Linked DNA regions of Homo sapiens. The protein of the gene in region 1 interacts with the protein of each later gene in a pairwise test. Each region holds a gene or a part of one and is shown on either strand. Other genes may lie near its edges.

Evidence for each region.
Region 2: the proteins of RHOH (region 1) and SORL1 interact in binary tests that used the Homo sapiens proteins (3 or more experiments, as listed by UniProt).

The regions. Positions count from the first base shown.
Region 1 is NC_000004.12:40,192,586-40,200,032, forward strand, and holds the start of RHOH (rho-related GTP-binding protein RhoH precursor), read left to right. Parts: upstream 1-4,445; 5' UTR 4,446-4,715; intron 4,716-7,447.
Region 2 is NC_000011.10:121,630,293-121,634,280, forward strand, and holds the end of SORL1 (sortilin-related receptor preproprotein), read left to right. Parts: 3' UTR 1-3,471; downstream 3,472-3,988. UniProt on the Homo sapiens protein: Sorting receptor that directs several proteins to their correct location within the cell. Along with AP-1 complex, involved Golgi apparatus - endosome sorting.

The sequences.
Region 1 (7,447 bases):
TAAAAAACCTCAATAAAAGAGGTCTTTGTTCACAGGAGAATATTAAAGTAAGCTGTTCTTTTGCCATATCAGAGAACATTTCTGATGAAGGTGGTTTTGAGAAAGTAAGTCTTTGCTTTTTCACCTTGACCTGAAGGGGACCGTTTGCACAGGGAATCCTGGAGGGGGCATGTTTAGGGCCAAGAAAATGGGCCTTGGGGCTCTGGCTGCTCCTCGTTGCCCACGGTGGTTCAGTTCTCTCTGTGGGGAGGCAGCGGGAGTGACAGCCAGGACAGATGAATGGGGTGAATCTTGGTTCTGGTTTTCTTAGGCCATAGGGTCTTATGCAAATCATTTAACCAGCTGAAGTCTCTGTTTCCTTGGCTGTTAAAATAGGGTTTAAAGTGTTTACCATAAAGGGCAGCTGTGAGGCTGTGAGATGGGAGAATCAATCTATTTATTGGTCAGAAAGTGGTTGTTCAGTACCTTGGATTTCTGAGTGGGCAAGGCTGGACCCTGAGCCCTGGGACCTCTGAAGTGAACACTGCAGGGCCATTTGGTGAGTGCTCTGGCCGTGTTAACACGACGTGCTATGGAGCCCTTGGGAGGGCACCTCACTGGGCTTGCAATGGAGGTGGGTGGTGGCTACAGATGGCTTCCTGGAAGATGGCTCAGAGGGGGGCTCTGATTCCCAGTTACGAACTGTGGACCCATGGTTTCCCTCCTCCTGCCACTCTGAAGTCCCCAGGATTTCTCCCAACCCCATCCCAAGGACAGACTGCACAGCGTCAGAAGGGACACGCCCTGGGGCTTGGGTGCGTGTATGTCTGTGAATGTTTGCATGTATTTTCAGCGTTTGCTTCCTCCCCTCACCACTACCCCTGTCGGTTAAAAGTCTGTTAAAAGAATGAGAGCGAGAGAGAGAGAGAGAGAGAGAGAGAGAGGAGAGGAGGGGCGGGGTGGGGGAGGAGGGGAGTGGGGAGAGAGAAAGAGAGAAACACCAAAAAGACATTTTCAAGGAAGGAAGAAAATTAGATGGCAACCCCCTGTCCCCTCCCCCTAAGAAAATCCTCTCTGAGATTAAACTGTGTGAAGATTAGAGGCGTGTAGGTCAGGAGCAGGAGGAAGCCCAACGCTGGACTGTACCAGATCATCTAAAACTGGCAATTCCAGGCACAGAAAACCAGTTCTTCAGAAGCAGAAGGGTGGTCAGCCAGGGGGTGAAAGGGACAGGGGTCTCGCAGCCAGGTATGACAATGCCCTTCCTAGTCCTTTCCAGGATGGGGTGGGACACACCCAGTCCATCCTGACTCTGGAGTACGTCTCCACTTTCGTGCAGAAAATGGTACAAGGCCTGAGGCCTGGAGCTCGTTATAAATCATGCTGGTGGCGTTTCTTGCTTTGTTTCCCAAAGGGCAGAGCCTCATCTCCCCTTCTACTTAGGAGATGGAGGGGATCTGTCCATACAGGCAGCTGTCCTTGTCTGACTCCTCTGCTTTCTGAAGGGGAGACATTGTCCCCCTTAAAGGACACTGGATCTCCTGTTGGAGGGGCAACCAATTTTGAACTCTTTGCCTCTTTAAATCTTTTAGAAACTTGGATGAGAGAAACTTTTTATCCTGAATTTTCTGAAGCATATCTGAAGTCATTTTTCTTTATTATTATTATTATTATTATTTTTTAGGCTGACGTCTCACTCTGTTGCCCAGGCTGGAGTGCAGTGGTATGATCTTGCCTCACTACAACCTCTGCCTACTGGGTTCAAGCAATTATCCTGCCTCAGCCTCTCGAGTAGCTGGGATTACAGGCATGAGCTACCGTGCCTGGCTAATTTTTGTATTTTTAGAAGAGACGGGGTTTCACCATGTTGGCCAGGCTGGTCTCGAACTCCTGACCTCAAGCGATCTGCCCTCCTCGGCCTCCCAAAGTTTTGGGATTATAGGCGTGAGCCACAGCACTCGGCCTATTGTCATTGTTATTATTAGTATTATTTTAGAGACTGGGTGTCGCTATGTTGCTCAGGCTGGTCTTGGACTCCTGGGCTCAAACAATTCGCCTGCCTCGGCCTCCCAAAGTGTGGGGATTATAGGCGTGAGCCACTGCGCCCGGCCCATGAAGTCATTTTTCATCTCTGGATAAAACTGGAACATCAAAGTGGTGCTGTGGGGTGGCACATTCTTACTAATCTCCTGCTGCACTCTCCCTGCCGCACACCCTGGAGTTGCTTTTAGTAAACTCTTCGGTGAGATGCAATCAGCATATATGGAGGAACAGCGTAAGGAACCACCTCACGGACTTGTGGCTGGCTGCGTGGAGTCTAAACATGGTGTTTCACTTCAGCCGTGTTGTCTTCTCTATGGGAATCCAGGGGGCAAAGTTTCTCTTTAATCTCAGCACTGGGGAGCCAGGAAGACCTCATGATTCTGAGCTATGTGTTTATGTTTCTCCCGCGGGCAATGAGCTTTCTGTGTGGTGATATTTCCTGCTTCATACCAGTTGCTGAAGAGCATAGAACCACGTGGCATACATTCTCTGTAATTAACCTCACCCCCAGTTTTAGTGTCATTTTTGTCTTCACTTCTCTTGGCCTCATTTTCAAATTTCTTGTTTTTAATTGTTTCATTTTGCTAAGGTGTAAGTATTTTTGCCAGATGCTCTAAATCCTTTGATGAACAAAACCAGAAGTAGATAAAGAAAATATCCACAAGCTTATGTTCTGCTCAGCTGATAACATCACCATGGTGATCTGGCTTTCCACAGAGGATTTTCCCTTTCTTTCCTTTCTTTCTTTTCCTTCCTTCCTTCCTTCCTTCCTTCCTTCCTTCCTTCCTTCCTTCCTTCCTTCCTTCCTTCCCTCCCCTTCTCTTCCTTTTCCTTCCCTTCCCTCCTTCTGTCTGTCCCTCTCTCTCTTTTTTCGAGACAGGGTCTTGCTGTGTCCCCAGGCTGGAGTGTGGTGGTGGATCACAGCTCACTGCAACCTCAACCTCATGGGTTCAAGCAATCCTCCTGCCTCGGACTCCTGAGTAGCTGGGACTACAGGTGTGGTTGCCCAGCTAATTTTTGTAGAGATGGGATCTCACTACGTTGCCCAGGCTGGTCCCGAACTCCTAGGTTCAAGCAATGCTCCCCGCTCAGCCTCCTAAAGTGCTGGCATTACAGGTGTGAGCCACCGCCACTGCACCTGGCCTCCCACAGAGGATTTTCTAGGAGATAATGTGCTCTTCAGAAGGCTCGAGGATCTCAGCTGGCAGATTGAGTTCTTACTGTGCATTAACAAATTGACACATGGGTTCATGTGGAAGTCTTGTGAACTTGGTAATTGGGTGTCTATTGATAAGAATGCTCACCTTGTACCATTGATTCCCTCTACAACTATGCTGCAAGCACAGTCATCTGCTTTCACTTCTTTGAACATGCCAACCTCTTTCCCACCTCAGGGCCTTTGCACATACTATTTGCCTCTACGTGGAATGTTCTTTCCTCCTTCTCATCCATTAGAGTGGCAGCAGTACTTTAGAATAATCAGAGGGGTTTAAAATAATATTGATGTCCGGTCCCAACCCAGCTCAATTAAACTCAAATCTTTGAGTGTGGGGCCGATGCACTGATAAAATAAAATAAAAGGCATGGAGTTGACTTTATCCTTACGGTCGGCAGGTATTTTGACCAAGCTATCACCGTGAGCAGTAGCATCAACAGTTAGTTATTCAGGGATTTGGGGCACAGGCGGTTGTGACCACATCACAAAAGTTCAATTTGTTGGGTTAGGCGTTTAGCCATAACCTAAGTAGTTGCAGATGGTCTCTACACCTGGATTGCCCATTAGGACAAAACAAGTAAACTTGTGTTTTTAGGCAAATAATGAAACTCTGAGGAGTCTGAAAAAACAACTCATCGCCAGGTAACTCCCAGCCCAGGTGCTCGTCCATACAGGGGTGAACGCACGGCAGGGGGCTGCTCGAACTCTCACTAAGCCTGCCTCTGTTCTTTGCAAAATATTTGATAGTTTTTAATGCAGCAAAGCGAAGCAGACAATCCACCTCTTGTTTTCCCCAAGCTGATGGGGGGAAAGTTCTAAGGTGTTGTTTCCTAAGCTCAAATTAACCAAGATTGGTCAGTGGCATGGACTTTTTTTTTTTTTTTTTTTGGTAATTTTACTTCCATGAGGAATCATTTGGACTCTTCAGTCTTCCTTTCTTCAGTTTTACGTAGGGCTTTGCTGGAGGAAAATGGGGCTAAGGGGGAGAGAAACATAGTCTCGGAGTAGGGTGGGGGATAAATTAAACGCAAACCCAGCGGTGCGGCAAAGGCCTTATTCTGCCTCTGATCTGGGGAAGTTTCATATTCTAATGGAGAGAAACGCACGTGCACACACACCCCCCTAAACCCACACAAATGAAACCCCCTCTGCGGAGAAGCCGGCTACAGGAAATTGACTTAGGCACAGGAACTTGCTAATCTCTTTTGTCACATTCGGATTGCTCCTGCTGCCCCACACACACTAACCCAACCATCTTGGGGTGGACTCCCTGCCAGCCCAACTGTTGTATTTTCAGTTCTTCCAGTGTGAATCAGTTAATATTCTCGGGAACGAGGGAGAGGTTGATCCTATGAGGAAATCAACCACAGTGAAAAGGCTTGGGCCGCTTTTGTTTTCACCTGCTTTTGTTGAACAAATTTGATTTCCGGAGTCAGTCATTTTACTGTCAAGACATTTCTTCGGCATTCTGCAACAGGTAAGGATTTTGCTTCCTTAAAAGTATTTCTTTGGTGTCAAAAGAAATTTTTCTAATTTTATTTAGCTTTTACTCTAGGCCAAACATCGTAATGACTCTGAGCTACCTGCTGTAAGGTGTAGAATCAATTTACAGGGGGACGGGGGTCGGGGGGGTGAGTGTTGCTTTGATATTCACTGCCCCTCACCACAGTCCTAACAAGATTTTTGAAACATGAAAAGTTACAATAGTTGGCTTTTTGGTTTTCCAGATATTCTAGAGAATGCATATGCTTGTGACTGTGGCTGAGCTCAACTGTATGGGTAGTTTAAATACTACCCAAGGTTTGATGAAGTAAATCTAAAGATGCTCTAAGTTGTGCAAATATGAATTTTAAAGTTGTCTAGTTCAGAAAAGAAACAGAACCGAAGTCTAAATGATGTAGATTTCAATCTGGAATTTCTAGCTTGTGTTTTTCACCTATTGCCAATGTTAATGACCATTTCCCAAAAGTGCTCTATGATGTATAACATGTATTTTTTAATTAAATTTAATCTTTCTTCTGAGGTGGTTTGATTTGGAGATATGCTACGAGGTACCAGTCAGTAGCCTGAGTTGTAACTAAACAAAGTTTGGGAAATCACCGGTTTTAGGTGCTTTACTAAATGAAAGTTGCCATTGACGTATTCAAGCAGGCAACAAGTAGTTGGTGTCCCCTTATTGGTTCTAAGCTGGTGCCGTGGAGGATATAAGAGAAATATTTTAAAAATCTCTACTTTGAAGGACCCTATAATCTGGTAGTTGTGATAAGAAGTAAAATTTAGGAAGCAATGCAAGATGAGAATTCAGTGATGAGTGGGGCAGCACAGGCTTGAAGAGTTCTGTGAATTCCATGGAGGGGGCCTGGGGGCAAACTGGAGTTGTCAGGAAGATCTGGGCTTTGGAAGAATGCGAAGTGTCGGTAGAAGGAGAAGGGGCAGGTGATTTCAGACTGGGAGGACCTTGTGGGCAAAGGCACAAAGGCGAGACTGACCTGGAGATGATAAGGCCAGTTGAAGAGACACTGGAGAAGAGAAGACAGTTTGTTTTACACATTGCAGGAAATCAGATTAGACAGTTAGGGTGTGGACACAAAAGCGAGGACCTTGCAGGCACTGGGGAGAAGTGACCCCATTCAATAGTCCTTGGTCTCCTTCTGCCCTGCGGCTGCGCTTCCTCGGCTCTCACGGCACCAGCAGAATTCCATGTGAGAGGGAGCTTGTCGAGCGTGGCCTCTTCCCACTTGGGGCTGCTTTCTGCATCCCTGTGCCTGGCTGTGGGCCTCCATTTGCCCTCTACTGTCTTCCCTTAGGACATCATTTATGCAGAGAAAGGTTCGTGTGGCTCGGGGTACCAGTAAGACCTCCACCTCTGGTTTCTTCATTTTAAGGAGGCCCTTCAATTATCCAGGAATTAAAGTGGCCTTCCTCTTGGGAGAACGAGTTGGTTGATGAATGATAAGCAAGTCTCTATTCCTCAAAAGCCAGTCCCCAAATTCCATGAAATATGTGCTACTTTCTTTGCATGTCTAAATGAGATGGCACGGGTATGCTTCTGTTCTTTTTCTGGACGTTGTTTAGAGAGTCAGTAGATCATAATAATTCAGACACTTTTTTTCTGGACCATAAAATATCTGAACCCATATAATAACAAACATACAGCACGGTGAATAAGAACCCAACTTTTGAGCCAGATCACTTTGCATGGAATCCCCATTCTATCATTCTATCATTTCTGGGCTGTGGGAACCTCAGACAAGTTACTTAACTTCTTCAATGCTCAGATTAAAAAAAAAATTCACAAAATATCTCTAATAACAGTAATAATAACTGAAAATACCTACCTCAGAGGGTTGTCGTAGAGATCAAATGAGATAAAAATATGTAAAGCATGTAGCCTAGTGCCTGACTGAAAAAAAAATCTCTCAATAGATGCAACTCTTATGATTCTTATTAAGGACTTGGCTATTGCCACAAATGAAGGTGTTATGAGCCCTGGCTTAAGAGCAAGAAGCCTGCAAAGCTAACTCTCCTAATCCCAACATTCCTTTCCAGGGAAAGTAGGGTGACAGGTGGAGGCTGGGAATTAACGTTTTTTGAGCACCAAATATGGACAAGGCACAGGGGTTGGGTGTTTTTCTAGTGAGAATACATATGAAAGAAGGAAAACAAACTTGGAAACCGCTATTTTAAGCCATTTGGTAACAGTTTCTCTAGCTTATGAGATGAGAGAGGTCCTCTCAGTATCCGCTGCATTACTTGTGGGCCTCCTTGGTTGACGTCGCTCTCTGAACGCTTGGGGTGGAATTCTAGAGGTGCTTTTCATTAGAGGCAGAGAGCATGACCTTTCTTCCTTGCCCAGTTTAAATTAAATTATTTTATCTTACAATGTGTTAATTTTAGTGCTAGCAAGGCACAGCTAAAATTCCATTTCTACTTAGGAGTGGGGATCATTGTGGCAGTGAGTGCTTATTTGGGTTTGGGATGCTTGGATCTGGGTGAAAGCCAGGATTAAAAAGCATCCTCCTTCCCCATTCCACTCTCTAGGTTATAAATATTTTTTTGGATTAAAAGCCTCCTTTAAAAAAATGCAAATCCACCTGGCATGTTAATTGTGCAGGGGATTCCTAATTATGTGTGCAGATGACGTGAGTCACACGGTGATAGTGTTCCTTCTAGAGTCCCACTGGTGTCCTAAGGGAGGAGACTCTGGAG
Region 2 (3,988 bases), on another chromosome or scaffold:
TCTCTTATATTAATTGATGGAATTTTACTGTATGTGCCTCTGTACAAGATGTAGCTTTGAGAGCTACAAAATGATAACACTGCTTTATTACACACTGGTTTCATTGTCATTGCAAAAACTTACCCTGGTTGTGGGGGAGAGTTCTAGATCTGTGCCATGATCCATACACTGGCTAATAGAGTACATAATTTTTCCATTTTCCATTTTTTGTTTTTACTTACTACTGAAGGATCTCAGATGTAAAATTATGTATTTGGTTTGAGATGGCCACTTATTGTCCTTAAAAATCCATACTGATATATGCAGTCATTTTGAATTGGACAGTGCCTTCTCTTTTTTTTTCTCCTCTTCTTCCATCTCCCTCACCCATGCCCCCACCCAATCTAAAGAGACAGTGCTGTACATTCTCATAGAGATAGAGAAGATCTAAAAAGTTGAGACTACTCAATCCAGTTAACAACAGCAGGAGCACTAGAGTTTGTTCATTTATTCTCTCTGTAAAACAAGCTGTGCTTTTTTTCTTCTGCCTTTAAAATGCCACCCGTGTATTCAAACCATGGCCACTTGATACTTATGTAGAATCCATCGTGGGCTGATGCAAGCCCTTTATTTAGGCTTAGTGTTGTGGGCACCAATGTCGAGCATCGTTGTGACTTGTGCTGTATGATTCTCACTGAAGAATTTCCTTTCAGCCAAGAAGCAGTGAGGTCTGGGAATATTCCAAAGTCATGTCTCTGAATATGTGTCCTTGACGTGCAAGCTTTGTAAAACCCCATCCCCGCTTAGGTGCGAGGCATCACCTTCTCACAAGTGTTTAGTTTCTTTTAACCACAAGTATCATTCTTGGGTGATAATATAGTTTCATTCTACTTAGGGATTGTTTAGAAAACAAAGAAAGAGCCAATTAAATTTTTTAGTTTTTGAAATTTTTATTTATATGTATACTTAGATGAGTATTTTAAGCTGTCGACCTTTAGTTTGCCATACGGGTAGGACTGTATTTCATGTTAACAACTGGTGGTAATGATAAGCCTTCTTCTAGCGTATTTTCTCTTCTTTCCTGTCACTTTCCTAAGTTTTTTTTTTTAAAGACTGGAATTTTTTTTGGCTTTATCTTGTCTTACCGTAGAGATTTGTTCAAAACTCTAAGCCCTACCACCTCCCCTTTAATAAGCTCTTTAAATAGTTGAATCATTAACAACCTGGTGGGAGGCAAGTCATTTAATTGAACCACTAGGAAGTGTATTTTCTTTTCTTTTTCTGCCAACTTTTTGGTGGCATTTGTAAAAGCTGATATAAAAGGCTCTGAGATGTTATTTTCAGTTATTCCATAGGCAAGCCTTTTTACAGAGCATATGTCTCCAGTTGGCAGCTTGAGATATTTCCGAGCATCCGGTTCTAGCTACCAGTGCCTCCCAATGCTTAGTGCACAGTACTGTAGACTGGCCATCACCCCTCTCCTTGGAAAATGCCACTGTGCTGTTTGAAAAAAAGCAGCCTTTTAGGGCTAGAGTATTTTATATAAACAGAAGAGCTAAGTTCCTGAAGACTAAGCTAGATAGCTGCAGCTATATGTAAATTGTATATTTTTATGAACTTTTGAAGCACACACTCCTGTTTCCCTCTGTGTAGCTTTGTGGGGATTTCATGTATATATGCTGTCTGAAAGAATCCAGAGGTTGGAGTGCCAATAGAAAATGAAAACAAATGCCTTGTACTACAGGCAGCCTCTGAAGGTGACCACATAACTGTCTTCACTGTGACCAATCGGAGTCCCTGCTTGCTTGTGAAGAAGGGGCTTTTGTACCTTGTTGGAGATGCCACCTCAGAAGTTCACACTGTGCAGGAAAAAGGTTTTATTCTCTCCTGGCATACATTAGAATGTCAGATGCTTGCATCCATGTGGACCACGATGGGCCTCTAAAAATTGGTGGGCAGGGGGTTTGCTTATGAGTTTTCTCTGGAAACCGATTTTACTCCTGGATGTATTGAATGCCCCTTGAGCTTTATGAGATACGAGTCCACATGGATAAAATGTTAGAGAGTGGAGTTCTACAGAGGATTCCAGGAAGAGGCCATGTCTGTGCAGTCCTAGTTCCAGACAGGTGAGAAGCTCCAGGAACTACTGGCTACCTTGACAAGCTGGGTAAATAGTTATCATTCTGGGTAACTGGTTGAAACTCTGACTTTTGGACAAGTAATTCCTGGGGTTCTGTCTTTGGTAGCATCACCAGGGATATTTGGGTGGGACAGACAGAAGACACACAGCTGCCTGTTCTCTCCTGCCCATCATGTTTGGCCCACTAGATGAAGCTGTACTCAGCAATTTAGGGAATGTAACCCTTCTCAGAACTGGCCATTTTCAGGGGAAGCTTGGGAGAGCAATAGTATGGTGAGCCCCTTAGAGATGAGCGCCTACTCCTTCTTGGCGAATGCTGCCTTCAGATGCTTACCAAGTGGTCACTGCATCTAGTAAGATTATATTTCCAGTACACTTCCTTAGGGCAGAAACACCATCCTATCAGGTTTGGTCAGTCCCTTCTTCATGAAGGGAGTCATGGGGAATTCCTGAAAATTTTCTTCCTTCTGCAGACAGTTGGATGAGTCCCTTAGAGAAGGCATCCAGAGACATAACTAAACTGAATATCATCCCATATTGATTTTAGGAATTGACTCTAAAACTCTGTGCAGAATCTTGTGTTGGGATTGTATCTTGACATTCCTGTTGTGTTATTTTTCTTAACTGGAGTGTGTGCTGCCTTTCAGGTACAATTTTTGTGTAATAAAAGCCAGTGCATTAAGTTTATATAGACTACTTTCTATGCAAGACTGAGATATGGAATAGATAGGAAGAGATATGTACTGCTGGGTACATGGACAGTAAGTGTGTTTTCAGATGGAGTACCAGCACCGAAAATGGGTTGAGGGAGGATGGGTTGTATGTATGTTTCTGCCCACTAATTTTGAGCAGCCATATTATGAATTAAATCGTCACAGCCAAGTAATAACCCAAGAATGGTATGAGTTTCATGTGTAATAGCTCAAATGGAATAAGCATGAATGCTGGAGTGGACCATTATCCTCAAATATTCTATGTCACTTCTCATTTAAAGACTCTTGTTATGAACTATTAGAAACTTTAGGCAAAATCAAAAGTATTTGCGGCAAAATAAAGGCCTATTCTACTCTTATTTAAAGTGAAACACTGTATACTTGTTTCTCTCCAAAGCGAAATTAAGTATTTATAATTTCAATTGCCTCGATAAGTTTCCAAGTCACTGAAATCTGCTGAAGGTTTTACTGTATTGTTGCACAACTTTAAGATAATTTTTGTCTCAATGTCAACTTTTTTCACTGAATAAAAATTTAACTGGGTCAAGAAAACACCTCTTTGAAAATCCACTGTCTCTGTGTGTCTCGAGCTGTTCTTTAGAGCGCAATAAAGATGGCTGACGCAGTCTCCAAACCCCATTTGATTGGTCTGTTTTAAACGGATGTTTATTTCATAGATGAGAGAACACCAAGGCCTGGAATAATTTTGTTATTAACAAGCTGGTCTCAGATGGTGGATCCTTGAAGAACACGATGTCTTTGTGTTGGTTGAGGAGGGGGAAGATGTGCTGGCTGTTTTGAAGTAAACAGAATTATTCCGTAGGGACAATGACTAAAGTGGCTCCCTTAAATTTGTAACTACATTTGCTAAGAGACAGTTTGCTAAGAAGGCAATTTTCAAATCTAAGAGACGGAAGCACAGCAGTATAGATGAGCTGTGTGTCTAAGAGCACTTCTATGGGTTTCCATAGACAGTCTTGTGAGGAGTGCTGCGTGTACCTATTATGGGCAGCTGAATGGCCATGGGCCTGTAAGTCAGGATTGGAGGCTGTGGAACTGGGTGGGGGAGGGAGGCAGGTTTTTAAGAATTTAACAGGTCTTCTGGTATGCTGCTTTTGTTTAGACACTGAGCCAGAGCCAAACCCTGAAGTATTAT